Regions from separate parts of the Homo sapiens genome. Here region 1 is linked to region 2. Evidence: fine-mapped expression QTL. A gene starts in region 2. The other region holds a variant in brackets. All regions are shown on one strand. Distances are from middle to middle. Region 1 has its middle 29 kb from the start of SNORD3I. Region 2 holds the start of PPP1R3B (protein phosphatase 1 regulatory subunit 3B).

What was found. PIP is the estimated chance that this variant, and not a neighbour inherited with it, causes the effect.
Region 1: its variant is fine-mapped to the expression of PPP1R3B in whole blood (TOPMed, PIP above 0.99).

What each region holds. Positions count from the first base shown.
Region 1 is chr8:9,085,292-9,090,814 of GRCh38, forward strand. It overlaps a transcript of ERI1 not described here. Among named protein-coding and RNA genes, the nearest start is that of SNORD3I, 29 kb to the left of the region's middle. The variant A/T (reference allele first, on the strand shown) is at 2,809.
Region 2 is chr8:9,148,351-9,153,350 of GRCh38, forward strand. PPP1R3B (protein phosphatase 1 regulatory subunit 3B) reads right to left here and starts at 2,308. Exons shown (of 2, transcript NM_024607.4): 1 at 2,213-2,308. It overlaps PPP1R3B-DT (PPP1R3B divergent transcript), which reads left to right and starts at 3,375. Exons shown (of 5, transcript NR_183348.1): 1 at 3,375-3,566. RefSeq lists enhancers at 1,708-2,656, 2,703-2,942 and silencers at 2,293-2,562, 3,063-3,312.

The DNA of each region.
Region 1 (5,523 bases), 63 kb before region 2:
TCTGCCTCCTGGGTTCAAGTGATTCTCCTGCTTCAGCCTCCCAAGGAGATGAGATTACAGGCTTATACTTCCATGCCTGGCTAATTTTTGTATTTTTAGTAGGGACAGAGTTTCACCATGTTGGCCAGGCTGGTCTTGAACCCCTGACCTCAAGTAATCACCTGCCTCAGCCTCCCAAAGTGCTGGGATTACAGGCCTGAGCCACCGCGCCCGGCCCTACCATCTTTTTTTATAAATAAATTTTTACTGGAACACAGCCACACTCATTCATTTATGTATTGCCTCTCTCTGCTTGTGTACTAAACTTGTAGAGTGTCGTGGTTGTGATAAAGACTGTAATGGCCCACAAAGCCTACAGTATTTACTATCTGGCCCTTAACAGAGAAAGTTCAGGGCCCCTAATTTAGATTCACTCTAAGTGATGAGACAGTAAAAGTTAGAGGAGGAGTCAATAAGAATTAAACAGGAATATGTGACGCTAATTTATAACAAAGTATAGCTGTTGGGATTGGTGTCCATAAAATGGTGGTCTTTCCTTAGCTGAGGTCTGTGAGACGCAGAACAGCAGGTTTTTTCTAACTTGTTAATGGCAGTCTCCATGCTGAGGACAAATTTAGCAAACTCTTATATGATCAAGATGCTTTTTTTAAAGTGTGTGCATAAGCATGCATGTGTTGGTTTGTGTGTATCTAGAAGATAATCTCTTGAGCAACCAGGAGGAATCACAGAAAAGAGAATTTTATCCTACTATTAGGAAATAACTCCCGTCCTCTTTCAAGTCCTAATTTGTTTGTCTAGACTGCGGCATTTACCATGAATGCTAAAAAAACAGGGATAGCGGGCCAGGTGTGGTGGCTCACACCTATAATCCCAGAACTTTGGGAGGCCAAGGTGGACAAATTGCTTGAGCCCAGGAGTTCAGGACCAGCCTGGACAAGATGGTGAGACCACCAATGCTACAAAAATACCAAAAATTAGCTGGGCATGGTGGCCTGCACCTGTGGTCCCAGCTACTCAGGAGACTGAGGTGGGAGGATAACTTAAGCCCAGGAGTTTGAGACCAGCCTGGGTAATATGGCAAAACCCCGTCTCTACAAAAAATACAAAAACTAGATGGGTGTGGTGATGTGCACATGTAGTCCCAGCTACTCTGGAGGCTGAGGTGGGAGGATCTCTTGAGCCAGGGAGGTCGAGGCTGCAGCAAGCTGAGATCACGCCACGTCACTCCAGCCTGGGTCACAGTGATACCGTCTCAAAACTAGGCAACCGACCAACCAATTCATTCTGTTTGACCCATAGTTTGACTCTTAAGAATGCATTGTAACAAAATAAGTAAGGATGTGTTCAATATTATAGCAAGAAGCCTGTTGGTTTCAGCACTGTTTATAACAGTAAAAAATGAAAAGCAGCCTAAATGTCCTACCTAATCAAAGTGGTTAACTGTGATAAACACACATTATAGAATATTATGTGGCCATTAACATGATGTTGTAAAAACATACATATTGGCTTGGATAAATACTCATACTGTTGACTGAGCAAGAGTGTCAAACCATTATTCTGTATGTTTTCCTGCAATGGACTTACTATTATGTATACCCATTTATATGCCTACATTATAATCTATAAGTGTACACAGGAAAATTCTCAAAATTTTAACTAGTTTTAAACTAGTTAGTGCTGGGCGGTAGGATTCTGAGTAACTTTGACCTCCTTCTCACCTTCTCATCTTATTTTTTTTTTAAGTTTTTTGAATTTTACTTTAAGTTCCAGGATACATGTGCAGAATGTGCAGGTTTGTTACATAGGTTCATGTGTGCCATGGTGGTTTGCTGCACCCACCAACCCATCATCTAGGTTTTAAGCCCCACATGCATCAGGTATTTGTCCTAATGCTCTCCCTCCCCTTGCCCCCCACCTTCATCTTATTTTTATTTATTTTTAAATTATATTTATTATTTATTTATTTTTGAGATGGAGTTTCACTCCTGTTGCCCAGTCTGGAGTGTAGTGGAGCGATCTTGGCTCACTGCAATCTCCGCCTCCCGGGTTGAAGCCATTTTCCTGCCTCAGCCTCCCTAGTAACTGTGGATTACAGGTGCATGTCACCATATGTGGCTATTTTTTTTTTTTTTTTTTTTTTTGATTTTTAGTAGAGACAGGGTTTCAACATGTTGGCCAGGCTGGTCTCGAACTCCTGACCTTAGGCCCACCTCGGCCTCCTAAAGTGCTGGGATTACAGGCTTGAGCCACTGCACCCTGCCCTTATTTTTATTTTGATTTTTATTTTTTATTTTTATACAGTGATCATGTATTCCTTGTGTAATTATATGTGTTTTAATGCACACGCAGATACAGACATCTTAGTTTGGAGATGTAGCAACACATTTCAATAGATAAATTTAGATCCCCTACTTTCTGCTCAAGTTGACATAAATGTCCTCCCCATGCAGCTGGGTGGGAGCATCAGGCCCCACAAGGGTTTGAGGTTCCCTACTTTCACAGAGAGGGAAAGGGGCAGATTCAGGTAGGGACAACACATTAAGGACCCCTTGCTTCTTCCTCATTTCCTGGGTGGGATGGTCAATCACACCAGTATGCCTGGAAGTGAGGGATTTCCCAGGATACAAGACTTTCAGTACAAATAAGGAAAATCCCAGGCAAACTGGGTCCAGTTGATCATCACATTCCTGGCAGATTTAAAAAGAATGGCATATACGCCTACAGGTGCACAGAGCTACATGTGTGACTCACGCTGCGGTATGTGGTTTCATGAGAAGTTACTTATGAAATCATTGCTGATTTCTG[A/T]TCCTCATGGCCAGGAAAGGAGACAAAATCAGCAGGGTTGAGGTCAGTTCAAAAAGGAGGCCTTCTAACCCCGAAGAAAGCAGAATCCATTTCAGGAGATAACACCTTCTCTTCTCTGCATTTAACACCAGTGCATGCATTTGTTCTGTGTCTGAGCCTCTGTAAATTAAAAAAAAAAAAAAATTAAAGTGTTTTCTGAATAATTCAGGTCAAATTAGCCATTCACTGACTCAATTTCCCACTTTCTTTGCTGTTAAACATTGAACTATTTAATGTCGCTGAAATTGCATTTACGGTATTCCGTTAGCTCAAGTTGTGCCCATTCTGCTAAAGCTCTCGACATTCTTATTATCATTAAAGAGAAAGAGGAAAGGACCAGGAGTGGCGACCGGCAAACCACAGCTTGTGTGGGAAGGAAATTTGACATGTGATGCAAGCGGACGTTTGTGTAAACTGCTGGGAGATTAACAGTGAGTATCTCTCTGTGTGTTGCCCATCCACCCATTTATAAGTGGTGGGAGAGATGGCGCAGAGGGGGAGCAATGCCCATTCAGCCAGTGCAAGTTGTGGGCTCAGCTGGCTGCTAGTCAGTCATCCTTTGTTTGAAAGCAGCACACTTCCTTTTCACCAGCTGAGTCAGGAGCTGTTCTCCTGGGTAATTTCAGAGAATCCACCTCATTGCTCACATGCACGTCATTGCCTTTGGATTGTAGCATGCTGGAGGGTTTAACCAGGGAGTTGACAATGAGTGTCTCTGCAGAACAGGCCAAACACATTCCCTGACCAGGTCATGCGGGTGAGTTAATAGGTTCACTACGTGCTCCTCCTACCCTGGAGAGCAGCGTGACGTTAGTTCCTAAGCTGCAGGGTTAGCACGTACAGTGTTATGTGGTGGCCTTGGCTTTAGAGTTAGCCAGACTTAGGGTAGAACTGTGGCTCAACCACTTCCTCACTGTGTGATATTTGGCAAGTTATTCGCCATCACTAAGGCTCGGTTTCCTCAAATAGATTAGGGAAATAACATGGTTCCCGCTTCACTCTCCTCTTTCCTTTTCTTCACTGAGTTTCTCTCACCTGTGCTTCTTTGTTGCCTGTAAAACATATAGGCCAAAGGGAAAGATGATTCTGGCATATTCCAGACCATTCTCACCTTCTTTAATTTATTTAATTTTAAAAATATTTATAAATAGAGATGGGGTCTTGCTGTGTTGCCCAGGCTGGTCTTGAACTACTGGCTTCAAGTGGGCTTCCTGCCTTGGCATCCCAAAGTGCTGGAATTATGGGTGTGAGCTACCACACGCAGCCTGGATCTCTTTCCAGTGGGGAACTTAAGATTCTTCTTCCTTTTCTGAGAATGACTTGGACACAAGGGTTTGCAAAGTATGTTCCATAGACCACTGGTGGTTCACTGTGGTCCCCTAGATGATGCAAACTTCAGAGGGAAGAAAATGCCCTATGAGGAGGAAGCAGAGAGGAGCCCCACTGGCTCTGAGTGGAGACTCCTGGCTCTACCTTCAGAACTCCACTCCTGGTCACCATCAAAGTCCTGCCCGGAGCCCACAGATTCCAATCCTATGCTGTTCTCCCCACCTCTTCTTCACTAGCTGTACAAAATGACGAGGTTTGTGTAGCCGGAGCGATGCCTTGGGTTTTTGTTGTTTCCCACCATTAGGAAAAACAGAGGGATTAGGTGGCAGAGTCCGCTTAGCTTTTCAGTGAAGAAATGAAAGGTGTGGCAGGATGGGTTCAGGTGCATTTTGCTGGTGGGAATGGAAATAAGATTGGGAGGAGGAGGATGTGAATGTGAACAATGAGACAGATTCCCTGAAATTATCCAAGAGAACGGCTCCTGACTCGACCGTTGGCAAAGAGGGTGTGCTACTTGCAAAGCAAGGATGACGGCTGAGATGATATCACATTTGCATTTTTTTGGATTGTCATCAGTCTCATTGTGCCATGTTTCCAATCTGCACGTGTGCGGATGTGCAACCGGGAGACACAGACAGGCACCAAGAGCCAGTAATGAAAATCCCACCTTCTCCTTGTAAGCAAACCTTATCCAAGGACCCAGGACACTTGCTTGACCCAATTATGCAGAAACTCCACTGCTTCTTCCTCCTCCTGATATGCTGTGAGAGAGGAAAGGAAGAGGGGCCGACAGAGAAGGGGTGTGGTGAGCTCAGGTGCATTTTGCTGGTGGGAGGACACCTTGGTGCCAACTTGTTCTGTTTCTCCAGTGATGTAAAAGCCTTTCAAAGTTCTCATTGGTTGACCCAATCATTCTAGTTCTAGGAATCCAGCCAAAGGAAATAATCAGCAATGCAGATGAAGATCTATGTTAAGGGTACTTACTCTAGCTTATTGATTATGGTAAAATATTGGAAAAAAATCTACATGACCAGGAGTGGAAAATGAAGTAGAATACGTTGGAATTACACAGTCTGTGAAGATGATGTTTTAGGAGTATTCGTTTTTAAATGGAAAAAGTTACACATGCACACGGTTAAAAGTTTAAATAGGACAAAAGAGAAGAAATGAGAAAGGAAACTCTCTCTGGGGTCCTCCTCTATAGATAAAACTATGTCCTCAGTTATAGATTGTGCTTTAGAAAAGAAATAGGTGAAACAAGAAAATGGTTTCAAAGTAATAATAAGTGGAGGAAAGACACAAGATCAAAAAACAACAACAACACAATAAAACAATGAACTTTCCAGT
Region 2 (5,000 bases):
AGGCCAGGGAATATGAGTCACCAAAGTTGGCCAAGGGGGAAAAAAAAAGAACCAGAAGTTATGGACATACATTTGAACCATGAGAGCAGGACTCAGGATCTGATACCAGTTGCAGGATAGGAATGAGTGTATGAGTGCTGCTCCCAGGTAGGTATGAATTCTCAAACACTTGCTTCCATAGAGATGCCTCAGAGCTCAGGGATCAGTTTCTCTGGTGAGAGACTGGGCCATGCTTGAGGGTAGATTACAGTGTTCATGGCTAAGACAGGGCAAACCCTAACAGATCATGGAGATAGTTTTGCATAAATGCTTTATCTGTTCCACTCATAACACACCTTCTCAAGACAGCTGGCCAAGGTTAGACGGCCATGGTGATAACTATAGACCTGCACAGAAAATAACCCTATGACCTTCACGGTTTCAGGCAGCTGAACTACTGACTTTCTGGCTGTACCTTTCATAGGGAGGAAATCTTTTTTGTATCAGGGCCACGACATTATCCCCTCCATTCTCTTATTCTCTCTCTCTCTTTCTTCTGGTAAGAAAAGACAAAAAGGCCGGGCGTGGTGGCTCACGCCTGTAATCCCAGCACTTTGGGAGGCCGAGGCGGGCGGATCACGAGATCAGGAGATCGAGACCATCCTGGCGAACACGGTGAAACCCCGTCTCTACTAAAAATACAAAAAAAAAAAATTAGCCGGGCGTGGCGGCGGGCGCCTGTAGTCCCAGCTACTCAGGAGGCCGAGGCAGGAGAATGGCGCGAACCCGGGAGGCGGAGCTTGCAGTGAGCCGAGATGGCGCCACTGCAGTCCAGCCTGGGCGACAGAGCGAAACTACGTCTCAAAAAAAAAAAAAAAAGGCAAAAAAAGGCCGGGCGTGGTGGCTCACGCCTGTAATCCCAGCACTTTGGGAGGCCGAGGCGGGCAGATCACGAGGTCAGGAGATCGACACCATCCTGGCTAACACGGTGAAACCCCGTCTCTACTAAAAATACAAATAAAAATTAGCTGGGCGTGGTGGCGGGCGCCTGTAGTCCCAGCTACTCAGGAGGCCGAGGCAGGAGAATGGCGTGAACCCGGGAGGCGGAGCTTACAATGAGCCAGAGATGGCGCCACTGCACTCCAGCCTGGGCGACAGAGCGACACTCCGTCTCAAAACAAACAAACAAAACCAAACAAACAAAAAAATCAGATGCACAAGCAACCCACCAGGAACACTGAAAGCTGCCGAACTGCATTCAGTAAACATTCACAACCAGGTTATAATTTTCATTTTTAAAGACATGGCCATCTACCTCCCTCCAACAATTCTGTGTTCCCTTCCAAAAGGTTTCACTGATCCAGCATGAAGAGAGTGCATGTCTTTCCCCTTTGTACTCAGACCATGGGGGCCTATTCACAGCCTTAAAGGCTCCTTGTACCCCTTGATCCTGTCCCCATCATCCAAAGCATCTTGGAGACTGACATTTGTGAATACAGTTGCATATTCTAGGAAAGAGGCAAGTTCAAATGACACAGCCCCTGCCGTCTAAAAACGTACGAGGGAAAACAGAGTACTAGGCTAAGAATGCCCGCACCTTGCTTTGCTACTTGAGCGAGTCACTCAGCTGCTCTGGGCTTGAGGTCCCCTCCAAGGTCCCTGCTGGCCCTGACATTGTATGTTGCGACCCACCCCTGGTGCCGCTTCTCTTCCCACTAACTTTTTTTCCTAAATACCTCAACTGTACTTTTGTGTAAGTCCTCCAGCTGTCTTCACTTTAGTTTTGGCTCCTGGACAACTCTGCCCAAGGAAACATTTCCTCCTCTCCTCCTCTTCCTCCCAGACCAAAGCTCTAATTGTCTCTTCTGCTGCACCCTGGGTCTCCCAGGCAGGCCCCCGCCACTCAGACCACAGGTTCCAACACCTTCCAAGTCTCCAAGTTCCCAAGTCCAGTCTTTCCTCTGTTTTCTCCTCTTTTTCAGAAAACAGTGCTCTGACAGGCCCCAAATCTTCCAGTAAGTCATTACCGGCCCCCACTCCCTCTTTTGCAGCTACTGTGCCTTCCACACCCCTTTTTCTGGATTCCAAAGAGACGCAGGAGCAGGCCAGTGCTCTCCAGGCTGGAGGATCCCACAAGTTACTCTCCGACTCTGTCCCCTCCGTCCAGTTTGACCAGGGCTGCACTCCGCCCCCAACCTCCCTACAAGCCTCCTTGGCCTCGCGCCGCACCCACCTTTTGGGCCGCGGAGAAGCCCCCTCCCCAGCTCGCTCGCCGCATCGGAGAGCCCGCAGGGTTGTGGCAAGCGCGACTACGTGAGCGTCGGTGTGTCCGGGAGGCAGGGCCTGGGCTGGGTTCCCGGAGATGTCGGCGGTGGGAGGAAGACGACGAGGAGGAGGAGCCCGTTATCGCACCCGGGCGGGGCCGGCAAAGGGGCAACCCCGGCCGGAGCAAGCAGCGCGACACCAGCACCCCCGCGCGGCCGCCTGGCCTCCGCCAGCCCGGGACGGGGATCGTGCTAGGTCCCGTCGCCCTCGGTGGCCTGAGAGCCTACCAAGTGTATTTCCTCGCGTTTTATAGGGAAAATAAGGCCCGGAGAGAGACGAAGCGGCTTGTCCTTAAGCTCCAAACCCCACTACCCAACTTTGGAGAAGTCTCCAGACCTCTCGGGACCCGGGGCTGGGAACTTGTGCTAGTTTCGAAGCCAGAACAACAGGTGGTAAAGGGATCAGCCGCCGCAGCCGCAGCTCCCGGGTCACGGTCGCAGCCGGGCCCAGCAGCGCGGTGGAGCACGTGGGCCCGGGAGGCGCTTCCCAGCTGCGGTCCCTGGATCGCCCTCTCCACGCTGAAGCAACAGCTCCCTGGGGCCAGCTACCTAGAGTGTTCCAGCCCCGGTGTGCCAGTGCAAGTCGCACGGTGAAAATGTAGGTGACAGGAACCCAAAGAGGTCCCCGCTGCACGCCCTCGCCTTGTTGTCCCCAGCCCTTCCCTCGGACTCGAGACTTGGGGAGCTACGTACCGGGTTCAGCTCATAAGTCCCGAGGGCAGACGCGCCAGCCCGCGGCAGCATACGCCCTGGGGGAACAGGGACAGCTGCCGTGACGGCAGGAGCTGGGCCCGGGCTCGGGTTCGCGCCCCCCGCGGGCGGCGAAGTCCGTCCGTGCACGAGAGCTGCGCGGTCACCTCCTCCCTCCAGCAGTCACCCGGGACTCGAGCTCCCCGCGGCCGCGCTGCCCCCTTTAACTTTCCTGCCAGCTCTCGGGACCCCGGGGTCCATCCCAGGCCCCCTGCCACGTGAACGCCCCCCGCAGCCAATGGGCGCGCCCGGGACTCCAGCCGCCGACCAATGGGCGCGCAGCCACGGCGCTGGGGAGCACCGCTTCGCCACGTGATCGGCAGCGCGCCCGGAGTGATCCGGCTGCGGGCCAGGGTCTGGGAAGGGGGTGGTGGGTCGCCGTTTCATCAGAAGCCGGAGGACGGGCGCCAGGGGGCAACTTCCTACAGGAGGGCGTCCCGTTAGAATGACAGGGCTTTTGCAAAAGTCTGACACCCGTGGCACAGAGCGCCCCAGATATGGAGGGTTTCACAGGTAGGTATACTTCAGAAGAAATTTCCTGACTTGAATCGGTTATAATCGCTATCTAAATCTACAGGGCCTCCGCGATGCATATTATGCACCTTGAGATCTATAGAAAATGGTCTTAGAAAAAGAAAAAAATGATGACCTTAAAGAGTTTGAATCAGAGGCTCTTCCTTTCTTCAGTTTACATGTAACTTGATCTGAACTAGCCACTTTAGGCATGAGGCTACCAGTTTTCTAATTTTAATGACCAGTAGAGTTTTAGAAAAAAATTAGAAATTGATATAGGATTGCCAACTTTTTAAACTGCCAAGAAAGACATGAAAATAAACCCTGCTGTCTTCTATTACTATCCTTTTATTTTTATTTTTTAAAGTACACTTTAATAGCAATAACAACGAAATGCAGGAAGGATGTAATGGCCAGTCTTTCCCATTGGATATATTTAGCTTTCTGAAAACTCATTATGTTGAATATGGCATTTGGGAGTTTCTACTGTAAGGGATACAGGCTCAGCTTCAATTTTACTAGGAATGCAAGCCTAAAACAGTGATCGGTGACAATAATCCAATACAAGCCTTTAGCTCTATAGAGAGCTTCCCCGGAGGGAGTCCTGGTGTCTGAAGAATGATCATTAATCTTCTTCCTTCTTTTCTGATGGGCAGATCTGATAAGGGACCACTTGTGAAGTCAGCTATTGGTAGGTGGTTGGCAAATAGCGTTTCTGTGCAATATTCCCTCTGCCAACTTTAAACCCTCTCTTGTTAGGTGATGAGTAGGTTGAAGATTTTTAAGCCAAGTACTGGCTAAGTTTCTCAGGTGTAGTGAGCATGCTGGAGGAGTGGGCAAAGATGAAGAGCCAAGAGGTATTGCAAAACATATGCAGGCAAAGGGTAATCCGAACCACACCGGGAAAGAGTTGGGACAAGTAAATACAGCTTTGTAGCATTAGGGTTTGGGAGCATTTTTCTTGCATAGATCTAGGAAACCATGGTCAATAATTTCCCCTGTGGTTTAGATGACTTTTTCAGACCAGGAGAGAGGGGTTAAACTTAGTTGTGGTACACCACAGCCTTAGTAGGTAGGAGGGTGTCATCTATGAGTTTGAAAAGAGCACAGTCTTTGCCATCAGGATAGAGCTGAGATGCAAGCTCAGAGGAGGGCTTTACCAGGAGACCCAGCAGTGCAGAGCTCCAGAGCCTGAGAGCTGGACCCACCCTCAGACACGATCTTGCCTCACCCTCTCATTTTATGGCAACAAAGAGAGAAAGTGAAAATGGAAAATTTCAATGCTTACTGCATCAGTCAATGCACACCAAGTTCTTTCTATTATATCTGGCATTGGGTTACAGCTTTAATTTTATTTAACAACCCTCCTCCCCCAACCAAAAAAAAAAAAAAAAATGAAACCAGAAAACAGCAGTGGCTAAGCATAGTAAATTA